Linked DNA regions of Homo sapiens. The protein of the gene in region 3 interacts with the protein of the main gene of each other region in a pairwise test. Each region holds a gene or a part of one and is shown on either strand. Other genes may lie near its edges.

Region 1 (3,500 bases), on a different chromosome or scaffold from region 3:
CTGGCTCTGAGATCTACATGACGGGATGATGTATATATGGGGTGCACTGGCAAAAGCCCCAGATTAAAAGCCACTAGAGGCCGGGCACGGTGGCTCACGCCTGTAATCCCAGCACTTTGGGAGGCTGAGGTGGGTGGATCACGAGGTCAAGAGATCGAGACCATCCTGGCTAATATGGTGAAACCCCATCTCTACTAAAAATACAAAAAATTAGCTGGGCATGGTGACACGTGCCTGTAGTCCCAGTTACTTGGAAGGCTGAGACAGGAGAATCACTTGAACCTGGGAGGCGGAGGTTGCAGTGAGCTGAGATTGTGCCACTGCACTCCAGCCTGGGTGACAGAGTAAGACTCTGTCTCAAAAAAGAAAAGAAAAAAAAAAAAAAGCTACTAGAGTAGACCTGGCTGTAGTTCCGATTTTCCTCTAATTTGCTGTGTGGCCTGGGGAAGATCCCTTCCCCTCTGAGTTTCCTTATTTTACAAATGGACTCAGTTCTCTCTGAGATTCCTTCATTTGGGACATTGTGATTCTGCCTTTGGCTGACACAAAATGATTAGGGTCATCTGCAAGGGTTCCACGGGGGAGTTCCCAGGGGAAGTCAGCACTGAGGGTGGTCAGGACCACCTGGAAAGCTTCCCCCCATAAGAGACCGCCCCAGAATTCTGGCTAGGAGCCACTAGAGGCCTATGGAGCAGATCTTGATGGTCAACATATCTTCTCTGGGTCCATGAAAATCTGTGTCATTTTCAGATTCTCAGACAAGAGAATCCCACACCTCATCCCACTGTCAGGGCCAGATCGCGGGCTGGAAGGGAGCTCTGGCTGGGCTCTTGGGAACTTTAAAAATAAGGGGACCGGAGGGCTATTCAGACAGACAGGAAGTAGGAATTAGAAGGGAAAAAATGCTGAAGCGGAGCCAGAAGATGCGGATTCCCTGCTGGCTTTGCTCCTTAGCAGCTGGGTAGGCTGGGCAACCTGCTTTAGCTCCCTGAAGCTCAGCAACCTCATCTGTAATATGGGCTTTTGTAAGGCTCAAAGGAGGGAAAGACATATAATGTTGCCAAGAAAACTGTAATGTGAGGTTTGCCTCTGAGATATGGGAAGAGGAGAAGGGGGGAAATAATACGACAGGGACAAGCTGACCAGGAGATTGGAAAAAGGAATGGCAGCACTGCTTTGCCCTGAAATGGGTGCGTCAGCCTCCAACAGATGGTCCCAGCGGAGGGATCAGGCTGAGAGGCAGTGACGTGTGCAAGGCTAACCTAATACCCGGAAAGACGCTTTATCAAGCTGGGGGGAACAAAGGCCGTGTTTCTTAGTGTGTCTTGGCTCTTGGGGTTTGTCCCCAGTGAACCAGTGAGGCTTTGTAAACAAGCTGCCCCATAGATCTCAAGATCTGGCCTTACAAGCCCTGGACCTAGCTTGCTGGGTCCTCCCTCCCAGGAGCTATTATAGACCTCTTACCAGGTCGGCTTGTCCAGATGTTTGGGTGGGAGATATCCTTTTCCAGATGTGTCTGGACAAAGCCAGAGACATAGCAGTAGGATTTGACAAATGCTATCTGGTCTCTTCTGCAACCTTCTCTGAGCAGTTGATGAAAATGATCCAAATTCAAATGCCAAAAGGGTTGGGACCCTTGGGCTGGGACCCTTGTGTTAAGTCATATACGCCCCCATTCCACAAAGTCCTAGGCCATAGATTTTATGGTGCTTACATCTCTGTTCCCCAGTGATGCCAAAGACATGGGTGAGAGAAGAAAGCTCTACCATGAGTTCTGCTGTATTCCAAGCCCTTGCTGAGTACTGAAGCTGCAATAGTGAATGTAACAGACATGGTTCATGGCCTCATGGAGCTTATGGATTTGTTGGAGAGATAGACATCAATCAAATAACCATATAAATATAAAACAATGAACTGGCATAAATGCTGTGAAAGCAGGGTGCTAGGAGAGTATTGAGCAGGGGACACTAGTGGGAGGAGGAATGTTAGAAAAGGCTCCCCAGGGAGGTGCCATCTGAGTTGAGATCTGATGGGTTGTAGAAGTTATGGGGCAAAGGGACTGGGGCTTGGGGTGATGGGTGAACCAAAGATGGTGGACCTAGGCTAGGGGACAGTGCATGCAACTGAATGAAGGAGTTGGTGCATTCATAGGCTGGGGCATACAGAAGAAGACGGTTGAGTCTAGAGGGGTTGACAGGGGCCAGTTGGACCACCTGAAAGATGGTGGCCTTGATCTTAAAAAACATTGGGGCCAGCCATGGTGGCTCATGCCTGTAATCCCAGCACTTTGGGAGGCCAAGGCGGGCAGATCACCTGAGGTCAGGAGTTCAAGACCATCCTGGCCAACATGGTGAAACCCCGTCTCTACTAAAAATACAAAAATTAGCTGGACGTGGTGGTGGGTGCCTGTAATCCCAGCTATTTCGGAGGCTGAGGCAGGAGAATTACTTGAACCGGGTGGCGGAGGTTGTAGTGAGCCAAGATCATGCCAGTGCACTCCAGCCTGGGCAACAGAGTGAGACTACATCTAAAAAAAACCCAAAACAAACAAACAAAAGTTGGGGAGCCACTGAGGAGTTTTAAGTGAGTGATATGATCAGATTTCAATGATCACTCTGCCTGCAGTGTGGAGATAGGCTTGTAGAGAGTAAAAGAGGGTGTAAAAGGACCCAACAAGAAGCTCTTGCAGTCACCCAGATGAAAGATGATAAAGGCGTAGCATTGAGAGAAGTGGCGGAGAGGAAGAGGACAGACGTGAGATATATTTTAGACATAGCGTGGGCAGGTTTTGATGAGGTGGGGGTGAGGAGGAGGAGGAATCAAAGACAGCATCAGCTTTCCACCTTGCAGAACTGGGGTACCTTCACTGAGATGGGGAAACCCAGGGGCAGCAGGAGCAGGTGTGGGTGAAGGCCAGCTTGCAGATTCCTGTTCAGATGTGTGGCGTTGTGTCTTCTGAAACGGCAGGGGAGTCACCTTGTTTGTTGTTTGTTGGTGCAGTGTCTGCCCACTGGAGCTGAGTTGAGGAAGGGAAGGGCTGGGGTCTGGCTGAGTGCACCAGCACCCACCCAGGCCTGAATAGGGCCTTAGAAGTGTTGGCCAAATGAATGATGCCTCAGTGGACCCAGCGAATCCTCACCATTCTAAGAGAGCTTCTGAAGCAGAAAACCTGAAGAAGGGTTAGCAGTTGGGCTGGAGATTATTTTGGTCAGAGTCTGGGCAGGAAAAGCCCCCCCAGGGCTGAGCCTCTTCTCTGTAATGGGAGCTCCTGGGGTGTGAGCAAACATCCATCATTCAACCGGGGCGCAGAGGGAAGGCCCGGAGTGGGAGGAGAGGCCGAGGTTGGAGGGACGGGGCCTTCTGGGAGGCCAGGGCAGTGTCCCAGAGCATCCGAGAGGGGCCTGTGACCCAGATGCCGCCTCCCCTTCGCCCCCGGCCGCACCGCGTGGGAGGAGGCGGCAGCTGCAGGCGGGGCGGAGGGCGGGCGGCCGGCGCGCCCG
Region 2 (4,018 bases), on a different chromosome or scaffold from region 3:
ACCCTGCAAAAAGAGGAACTGATGCTTTCATAAATCTATGTAACTCATCAATTATCTACCACATTTTCTTGTAAAAATGTATTCATTTTCTACAGTCAAAATGGAAGAGAGGTTTTTTTCCTTTTTGTTTCCCTGCTAGCACTCTAAAAACTAAGCCTTGGAATACCGTTGGACATCACCCAGCCATAAAAAACACACCTGAGTAAATTCCTAAACTAAGTCTGGGAAAGAAAAAGGTAAATGAGAATTCTTAATAAATGGAATATATGATTAGATATTATTTTTCTCTGAAACTCACCTCTTTTATGCTCTGTAAATATTTTCTTAACTTTTAAATCATACTAATAAAATGCAAGTTACAGTTATAAAACTGAAATCAAAATAAGTGAACAAATCTTTTCAAGGTGACAAACCCAGGGAGTGGCGGGGCTGATTAGAAAACAGATGTGTCTGATGAGTTCATGGCCTTTGCAGGGACATGGATAAAGCTGGAAACCATCGTTCTCAGCAAGGACAAAAAACCAAACACCGCATGTTCTCACTTATAGGTGGGAATTGAACAATGAGAACACATGGACACAGGAAGGGGAACATCACACACTGGGGCCTGCTGTGGGGTGGGGGGAGGGGGGAGGGATAGCATTAGGAGATATACCTAATGCTAAATGACGAGTTACTGGGTGCAGCACACCAACAGGGCACATGTGTACATATGTAACAAACCTGCACGTTATGCACATGTACCCTAAAACTTAAAGTATAATAATAATAAAAAAAAAGAAAACAGATGTGTCTGACTCATGTGTCAAGTCAGGCCACCCAAACACTAGATTCTCCTACCCCATCCTGCTCATTTAAGTGCCCAATGACCACCCTCTCTGTAGACACTGCCCTATGCCTCAGTGACTACTCCAAGTGCATTTCATTTTGCAAGTTCTTGTACCATCTCACTGGGGTCAAGTTTGATTTTTTTTTTTTTTTGTCTTCTGGAATACTATTTTTTCTTTCACAAATCTTAGAGAATCCAGGGGGCAGAAATTATTTCTGAGTTTTCCTCTCAATACCAGCATCTGATTGGCTGACCAGCAATGTACCTCTGAGAAATGGAAGTCGGGTTGAGTGAACACAATCTTAATGCCTCAAAGGGTTAGCTTTCCAAAGGAAGGGTATACCAGGAGATTCCTCTCAGCCCCAGGGCATCCACCTGCTCCCTTGAGAGGCTACACTCCAACCTCAGATTGTCCTCTGTCTCCCATTCCCAGATACCCAGAGTTCCATTCCAGGCCAGGAGCTGAAATTTACTAGAGATTCTAGCATACACAGCCACAGTTGATATCTTGATTTATCCCCAGACAGTACTGAAACCCAGGACCAGGAGAAAACCGAAAGGTGGCTGAGGACACATCACCCTGTAAAGTTTCCAAAGGGAAACCTTGACCCAAAAACATTCTGATAAGATCTCTGCGCCTAGGGAAGATAAAAGGAAAATAGGCACAGACTTTTTTTTACAATACAGTGTCAGGGGATTATTTTTTGTTTTCTTCTCATTGGAAATATTTTCAAACAGCAAACAATTTGTTTAAAGTGCCACCCAATAATTTGTCAACAATGATTAATTAAAATACAGTATCTAAAATGTACACTAAAGGACAAATAGTTGATAATGTGAATTAGGGAGGGGAAGCTGGGATTTGGGAATGTCAAAGGAAACTGGAAATTTAGCATTTTACTGAAAGTCAGTTAGGCTAAAAGAATGGGGAATAGGGAGTAGTCTTGAGACCCTGCTTGAGACACGTGAAAGTTGCAGGGGAAAATCTGTCCCCTGTGGAGTGTGAAAATAACTAAATGGCAGGCAATTAGACTGAGGTGGCTCTAGTCCCAGGGTTTTTACTTTTTAAAAAATCTAACTCAAATGCTTTTTTTTTGTAAATTACTACATTGGGGAAAACAAAATTTAGACTTAATCAACCATGAACTGCCAATTAAGCTCTGATTACGTGACCAGAAAATTTCCACCTTCATCTAAAACTAAGAAACTACGTAACTCTACCTAACCAATTATTGAGTTTGCTTTCCTTTATCATGCACCTTCTAAAAGTCTTTTCTTCAAGCCCCTCCCATGGAAAATAAACTACAAACCACAGCTGGGTGCTCTATAATTCTTCAATTACTCTTTGATTAAATTCTTTAACATTTTTGTGGTGACTTCCATAGATTTTTAAGAGAAAAAAGATGGACTAGGAACCCCACAGACTAAAGCTTTTCCCATTCATGAACCCCGCATCCCGAGTCAGGATTCTCCCCTGATGACCCTCCCGGCATCCCTGCACAATCGGGGAGAGATGCCGCGCTGCGGGTGCAAAGCCGCCCGGAGAGGGCTCCAGGCCAGGGCACAGTCACTGAGCAGGGAGGAGACAGGACGCCCAGGGTCCCGGCTGTCAGCCCAGCCGCCATCTTACGGCTGAAGGGGACTGAGGACCGAGCTGCGCCAAGGAGAACTCGGGGCCGCGGGGGACTGAGGGCCGAGCTGCGCCAAGGAGAACTTGGGGCCGCGGACTTTGGAGGCCCGAGTCCAGCCACAGCCACTTCCGATCGGTTCCAACCAGCCCCTCCCCCTCTCTCGGGATGTCGGACCCAGCACTCTCACCATTTCTAGGTTTCCAGGGAGTCCCGGCGTCTTAGCTGTGGATCTCCCAATATCTGCAGGTCACAGGGACACAGAGGCTGGGCCTCTAGGAGCAGAGGACACTGAGCAGTGAGGAGGAGAGCAGGAGCTCCGGCTGCAGCCAGAGACAAAGGCCCCGCCAAATCCCGGAAGCCGTCCTGTCCGCTCCAGCTGCGTGCCTGATTGGACGGTTCCCAGCCCAGCAGTCCTGATTGGATAACGTTTGCTGCCCTGCTCCCTCAGGCCCTGAGTGACAGAAGCTGTGCTCAGATGCTGGGCTGGAAGAAGATAAAGTGAAACCTAAGCTGCAGCCTTTTCAGGCAGGGCTCCTCCCTGAGTTGAGCCAGGTCCACCCCAGAAGGCATTTGCATTTAACCTGTATATAAAGTCATATGCATTTATAAATAATATATTATGTGGCTATTCACACATGAAAATAATATAACAATTATTTTAAAATTCCAGATTTTATGCCCTTTCTGAATTCTGGTCCTTTGAGCAGGCCGATTGAGAGTTTAAAAAGGAGGCAATCCTCTGAAATAAAACGTGAGCCACATGTGTATTCTAAATTTTCTAGCAGTCAAACTTCAAGAAGGAAGAAGAAGGCCAGGCGCGGTGGCTCACGCCTGTAATCCCAGCACTTTGGGAGGCCGTGGTGGGCGGATCACGAGGTCAGGAGATCGAGACCATCCTGGCTAACACGGTGAAACCCCGTCTCTACTAAAAATACAAAAAATTAGCCCGGCGCGGTGGCGGGGGCCTGTAGTCCCAGCTACTCGGGAGGCTGAGGCAGGAGAATGGTGTGAACCCAGGAGGCAGAGCTTGCAGTGAACCGAGATAGTGCCACTGCACTCCAGCCTGGACGACGGAGTGAGACTCCGTCTCAAAAAAAAAAAAAAAAAAAAAGGAAGGAAGAAGAAACAGGTGGAATTCATTCTAACCATTTAATTAACCCACTATATCAAAAATATTATATTAATATCTGAGCAATATGTAATTATTAATAAAGTGTGTATATTTTTGGAACTAAATCTTTAACTCTGTATTTTACCTTTCTAGCACATCGCAGTTCTGACCAGCCACATTCCGGACACCCAGTAGCCATACATGGCCAATAGCTGTCACATTAAAGTGCAGCTTTGACAACAGGGGTTTGAAGGGCCTGAACATTCCTTTTCTGCCAGAGGTGAGGGAAGAGCCTCTCCCTACCAACATCTCTCTTCAGTTCTGAGGTGGAACAGACCGTGGCCATAAAAAGAGCAGAGGACAGCAGGAATAAAATAACCTAAGGTTGTTAAGAATTAATGTAATTAATATGTATATAATTAAAACTACTAGATGTATGAAAAACAA
Region 3 (3,072 bases):
CAATACAATCTAAGTTTATTTTGAGAGTGTTTGCTGTATAATTGGACTTAATAAAATGTTTAGAGGTACAGTAGGCATGACTTTGGGTAGATAATAAAATGCAAAATGCTCATTGATTCATGATGTGGTTTTATCTTAGCTTGGGCAAACCATGCAGTATTTAATAAATAGTAGCAGAACTTTTACTATTGAAGCTTGAAAAGATGTGAGTTCTTTGTGTGCAATTTTTGATTTATGCATGTGAGAGGGTTTTTTTTTTTTTTAAGTATTTTTACATTGCAGTACTTGTTTTGCTTGTTGGTGATGTTTGCTTATTTAATACATTCCGTCAGGGACAGAAATTACATGCTTTTTTTTCTTTCTAGGAAGTGTGTTGAGTTCCCCCCTTCCCCGACATTTTTTTCTTTTTTGGGTGGTGGTGATGGTAGTGGTTATGTCTGTTTAAATGAAGTTGCTTTTACAGCACCAAAGACTTAATCATCCATTTCCTATATAAAGGTAGCTACTTTTTGCATAGACCTCAAGTATATTGTAGTGTAAAGGTGGAATTTAAGGAAAGGTATTAAATTGAGGCTGTGTTTTAGCTTACAGGCAAGTAATAAATTGTATCATTTATCTTGAATGTATCATAGATAAGCTGCTATATAACGATTGCCACTTCAGATAGCTGTGAAATTAGGTGATTAACTAGTTGTTATTTAGCCTTCTAATTTCTGTATAAGTCTAATTACATGAATAGAAATTGGGGTTTTGATTTTTTACTTTGCTTTTCTGTTTGGAGTGTCATTGTAACTACTGTATTGTAAATGGTGGAAAATAATTGCATTTGTTACTTTGGGGTGTGTTATTTGCATCAGTATTTTATCTCTATTAATGTTTGTGCTCATCACTGCATATTAAAAAAACTTGGATGTATCAGTGTAACTTAATTTTTTATTTTCATACTGGCATTGTAGACACTTGAGAAAGCTGTATCTTGCAGGCTTGACTTAACTTTTTTCCTTAAAAATCTGGAATATAATCTTACAGCATTTACTGGAATAAACAGTACAAAGCATTGGAGTGTAAAACTCTAGATGTTTTGGATTTACAGCGTTTCTTTGATAAATGAATTGTATACCACTAGTACAGCTCTAGTACAGCGTTCACAATAAGCTAATAATGGATAAGTTTTCTTCACTCCATTAACACAAGCAGTGTTTTATTTAATAATCATCAATGAAATAAATGTGCCTGAAATTGATTTTAAAAATTACAGTATTAGATCATAAAGTAAAAACCAGCAGTACATTTTTAGTCACACTGAAAATGAAGGACTTAATTTTCCCCACAAGTTTCAGTGTTTTTAGTAATTAATTCTATGCATTTTATACAAATAGAAATATATATATATAAAAAATTAAATGTTTAAAAAGGAGTAGCCTAAGATTAATTTAAAAGATTATTTACAGATGACACATTTATGGGGTCACTATTTAAGTAAATTTGCTGCCCTCCACAGCCTTCTAATTTTATTTATATGTTCCAGCAGATTATTAGGATCTGCTTACTTCTTAGGAAAGAATCAATGCTGGCAACACATTGTTTCAGAAACACCAAGTGCAAAGGATTGATTGTATCACAACAGGTACAAAACTGACAGAGTTTTCTTTTTGTTTAGGGCCATGTTTACTACCCTGAAATGTTGTATTTTTTGTCTTTAATTTCCAAGACTTAAAGCAGTCTTGTTAAATTGACATAAATGGTAAACTTCAACATTTTCATAATACAGTATTAATGTTTGATAAAGGTATATCCCAGTTAACTACACTGCTCTTTAATTGCAATCATGGGCATTTTAATGTATTTTAAAATAAATTTCAAAATTCTGCTAAATTCTTAATTTAGCATATTGACAAAGTAATCTGGATTTATACCTTTTAAAAACCATTTTGACCAGTTTTCTTCGGTTTTAATGCTTTCTTAAATAAAACACTGCATGATTTCCAAGTTGCATATTTGCATACTATTTTAATTTGCAAAATGTTTTTTAAATCAAATATCCTGATATTTAGTTGTTTTTTTTTTCCTCCAGCGTGTTTAATTAAATATGTTACTGTATTAGCAAAACATTTTCATTTTTAAAATCTGCTAATTTTAAACTTGGACTGTGTTAAGTAAAAGTTAAATCATACACTGCAAGGTGTAGGAAGATTTGTTTTAATGAATCCAATGATACAGATTTGATTACTAAGTTTGAACTGTTAATTGTTTAACAATTTTAGACTTGTGGCTTTCTTTCTTTGGTTTATTTGTTTTTGCTTTTACTCCTATGCTACACTAGTTTGCCATGTAGCAATTGCACTGTGCAATATTACAATAAGGACTGGGAAAATTTTATGGATGTAATGTCTATTACGGTTTGCGATAGTATTTCTCTCTAGTTCTCAGTGATTTAAATGTGACCAAGCCTTCTGTACTTTGTCACAAAAAGCGGGTTTTCCAGGTGACTATTTTGGTGAGTGTCAAAATAAGAATTTATGGTGTATTACTGTCGATTCACTTTGAATTAAAATATATATATTGCAGCAAACAGCTTGTTGACTTTTTTTCCACCCCAATACTCCTTACAGGGTAGGGAAGGGAGAGGTTAACAATATTGAGTATCTATTAATAACTTACATCATCTTATTTAACTCTCAAAGCCACCTTGTGAGATAGGTATTATTATCTTTGTTACACAAATGAGGGCATAGCTGCAGAATGTTTAGGGAACTTGCACAAAGTCACATTGTCAATGAGTTGGAATCTGAGATACACACCAGGATATCAAACCATAACTAATCTACTTTCTATCAGTTCTTTTAAAACCGAAGTCTGAGGCAGTGTACCCGGACTACCTGCAACCATAAGATGACCCTGTCCCATTTTCCTTCAATATTAAGTTTCCGCAAATATTTTTTGAGAGAAATAATTTCTGTTCAATATGTGTGGATGAATAGGGAATTCACATGTATCTTTAATACTTAAAACATATGACTTCGAAAGAATGTGATTGTAGTAGGCCAGCTTACATCCTAAAATACCAACACC
Region 4 (3,500 bases), on a different chromosome or scaffold from region 3:
CCCATCTCTACTAAAAATACAAAAAAAAAAAATTAGCTGGGCATGGTGGCGGGCGCCTGTAGTCCCAGCTACTCAGGAGGCTGAGGCAGGAGAATGGCGTGAACCCGGGAGGGCGGAGGTTGCAGTGAGCTGAGATTGCACGACTGCACTCCAGCCTGGGTGACAGAGCGAGACTCCGTCTCAAAAAAAAAAAAAAAAAAAAATTGTACATTGTTGCAAGAGTCATTTTCTTAAACTACAACTCTGATCATATTGTGCACTGGCCTAAAATTTTATTGCCTTAAGGGTAAAATCCAAACAAGAAGGGCACTCAACCTGACCCTTGTAATCTCCACCTAATTCTCCAATGTCACCTCCCACCACCCTATTTGACTGTCTCTCATAGCCCCAGTGTAAGCGTGTATGCATGCATGTACACATATATACTCGCATGTCCCATCTTTTTAAGCCATATCATTGGAGTATCTATTGCCACTACGCTTCTGCAAATGGTGTTTTGTTTTCACTGTCTACCTGGCTAAGTATCACACATTCTTCAGCACTCAGCTCAAGCATTACCTTCTCAAGAAAGTCTTCCTTGACGTTTCACTCCACTCCAGCCCTCTAACACCTGATGCCTCCTCAATCATAGCACTTAAAAACATCATTCTAATTGCTTACTTGTTTTTCATCCTATAGCCCAGGCACCTAACTCAGTGGCACACAGCAAGTACCCAACGAATAAATGCTGAATGGAGGGAAGGCTGGATGAACAGAGTAAATAATGGGTGTATGGCAGTTGGTGACTACTTACAAAATCATCCTCATAGTCCATGGGGGGCTCTGCTGGAGGGGCACAGCAGTGACGGATGTCCAGCCTCATCTGAAGCTCACGCACCTGTCGACGTAGCTGCTCCACCTCTTGTTTGTACCCTGCTTCGATTTGCCGTAACCTATGCTGGATCACATCCGTGGGAAAGGGGAGTCCATCATCATCCAAATACAGAGGAGGCACTGGAGAAGGGCAGTTCAGTGGAACGGGCTTTGTGCTAGAGACTTGCTTTGGATGACTGGACAACCACATCTGGTTCTTTCCTCCTGGGCCAGTACAATGTCCATTGGAATGACTAGAACAGACAGGTGACTTCACACCTTCTCTCTGAGCCCACTGGCCCCCAAAGCAGGGCCCTGTGGCCCGCATCTGCTTACTGTTTGGCCTCTTGCTACAACAGCCATAGGAAAGCAGCCGCCGAGGGGTGGCCTCCCCACTTGGGAATGAAGTCACCATCCCTTGGAAGCTGTCCCAGTTGGACCCTAGAAAAGAGAACTCACTGATCTGGCTCTGAGAAATTGGCTTCCGGACCAATTCCAATGGCATTTTCCCAAAGCGAGGATTTTCCAATAACTGCCCATTCCTATTATTTCCTCTTTTACCAATGTCTTCCTCCCCATGGGTCAGATCCGGCACAGAACTCAGTTGTTCCTGGTGGGAGATACTTGCCACAGACCCTGAGGGATCTTGGTTGAGGAAGTCAGTGCTTGGGTCTAGAGGAGTTTGGCAGGCAGCACTCGGTGGGTTGCAAACGGTGCTGAGGCTGTGATCAAGAACACACTTGGAGGGCACACCTAGCATGGAGTCTGGCTGGGCCTGTTGGGGCGTACCTGTAGGAGAGTTCTGGGAAGACTCAGGAAAATTACAAACTCCATCACACTTGTTAGAAATGACCTTGGAGAGTGCACTGACAGCTTCTGTTTCAGGACAATGTTCAGGTGGCTCCCCTATGCCATCTAAAGTCCTACCCAGCTCATCCTGGGCAGAAGGGTCTGGAGCTGGTCCCTTAGTCTCTTCTAGGACTTTGATCTCAGGATCAGAGGTGTTGCTCTTCATTTCCCGAGGCACTGCGGTATTAAGCAGTTTGTAACTTGGAGAACAGCTTTTGTGACTCTTGAAAGGTTTATTGCTCAAGTAGTCTTTCTGGCTGCTGGGCAGAGGAGGAGGAAGACCCACTTCTCCTACAGTTTGCTGAGGCCCTCCTACCCCAGAGTCCACAAAGCTTGTCTCTGATCCCTCAGGATTGCTGTGCCAGGGCTCCAGGCCTACCCTGACCTCCTGACAGTGGTTATTCAGGTTAGGGTCACTGGATGTACGAGTCAGGGGGCTGCTTGTGTCACAGGCAGAAAGAAGATCATCCATGGATCTGGTTTTAGGTAATCTGGAAAGACAAATATAACACCTCCAGGTCAGGAGATGGGCACTTGCAATACAATATATGGAACTGAATCAATGGAGCAATATCAAAGCCAGAGTTTAGAAATAATGACACTTAAGAACACTTAAGTTTAGAAATAAGGACCCTTAAGATCACAAATAACCAATGTTCACTGAAAGTTTACTCTGTAAAAAAAGCATGAGACATGGACCGTGTCCTCCGGAACCCAAAAATCTATCCTCAGCTTTTGTCAGCACTCAACCTACCAGTCTCCCTGGGCAATCTCAACCACTACAGTGGTTTCAGCTGCCTTCTATGCCAATGCCTTCTGAATCTACTGTTCCAGCTAGGACTATACCTGAGACTCAAACCCAATATCCCACTGCCTCCATCACAGTAAAACAGAAAGAAGATGGGTTTTGGAGCTAGACAATATTGGCTCTGACGCTAATTAGCTACATGACTACAAATAAGTAAATTAACCTCTCAGATACTTGGTTTCTCCCTTTATACAATGATGATAATAAATCATACCTTGTAGAGATGCTATGAGAATTCAAAATACAGGCAACCAACCACAAACATAATAACCACAAACTTTATTAAGACAACACAACTCCCTCAACACTGCTCTTGATAACCACTTAGCAGCAGTGTGCTCCTCTGCTTCCCAAGGCCCCATGAAACTTCCCCTAGTATATAGCACTCAGAGTTCTAGAGGCATTCATATATACCAGATAGGTTAAGGGACATTTTCAAGAGTGACCATCCTGATTATTAATGCAGTTCAAAGTCCTTAGAGCAATGAAAACTTGAGTGAAATTCACCAGGGAAACAGTAGAGGCTTCACTGGCCTCCTATTTTTAGATGGCTCAGTCAGTTCAGCCTATGCGGAAAAATTCCCCAAAGGCAGTTACAACGCAGCTTATTTTAAGTAATCGGTTTTTGAAACTTAAAACAAATGTTTTATACATACTTGATATACCTTTTGTGACGAATTTTGATTTTTTTAATGGTACGAAATTCCAGGAAGGCAATAACAGTGGTTATCATTATAGTTCCTGGAGTCCCATAGGCAGGGTTCAAATCCCAATTTAACAACATCTTTGCTGTGTGACTTTAACTTCTCTACGCCTCAGATCCCTCATCTATGGAATAAAGGTAAAGTACCTAGCTCTTAAAGCTATTATGAAGATTAAACAAAAGAATCCACATCAAAGCACATTGCTCAGTGCTTCCTATAACACATTATTGCACTTTATTGTTTACTTGTTTAACTCCCTCTACTGAAGTGTCCTGAAGGCAGGACTC

The links. The genes of interacting proteins can lie anywhere in the genome.
Region 1: the proteins of HIPK3 (region 3) and HEYL interact in a two-hybrid assay, tested with the Homo sapiens proteins (one large-scale study listed by BioGRID and IntAct).
Region 2: the proteins of HIPK3 (region 3) and ZNF107 interact in a two-hybrid assay, tested with the Homo sapiens proteins (one large-scale study listed by BioGRID and IntAct).
Region 4: the proteins of HIPK3 (region 3) and MTMR4 interact in a two-hybrid assay, tested with the Homo sapiens proteins (one large-scale study listed by BioGRID and IntAct).

The regions. Positions count from the first base shown.
Region 1 is NC_000001.11:39,633,144-39,636,643, reverse strand, and holds part of HEYL (hairy/enhancer-of-split related with YRPW motif-like protein), read left to right. Parts: intron 1-3,500. UniProt on the Homo sapiens protein: Downstream effector of Notch signaling which may be required for cardiovascular development. Transcriptional repressor which binds preferentially to the canonical E box sequence 5'-CACGTG-3'.
Region 2 is NC_000007.14:64,664,915-64,668,932, reverse strand, and holds the start of ZNF107 (zinc finger protein 107), read right to left. Parts: upstream 2,801-4,018; 5' UTR 2,651-2,800; coding exon 2,648-2,650; intron 1-2,647. UniProt on the Homo sapiens protein: May be involved in transcriptional regulation.
Region 3 is NC_000011.10:33,354,452-33,357,523, forward strand, and holds the end of HIPK3 (homeodomain-interacting protein kinase 3), read left to right. Parts: 3' UTR 1-2,572; downstream 2,573-3,072. UniProt on the Homo sapiens protein: Serine/threonine-protein kinase involved in transcription regulation, apoptosis and steroidogenic gene expression. Phosphorylates JUN and RUNX2. Seems to negatively regulate apoptosis by promoting FADD phosphorylation.
Region 4 is NC_000017.11:58,494,139-58,497,638, forward strand, and holds part of MTMR4 (phosphatidylinositol-3,5-bisphosphate 3-phosphatase MTMR4), read right to left. Parts: intron 2,193-3,500; coding exon 794-2,192; intron 1-793. UniProt on the Homo sapiens protein: Lipid phosphatase that specifically dephosphorylates the D-3 position of phosphatidylinositol 3-phosphate and phosphatidylinositol 3,5-bisphosphate, generating phosphatidylinositol and phosphatidylinositol 5-phosphate.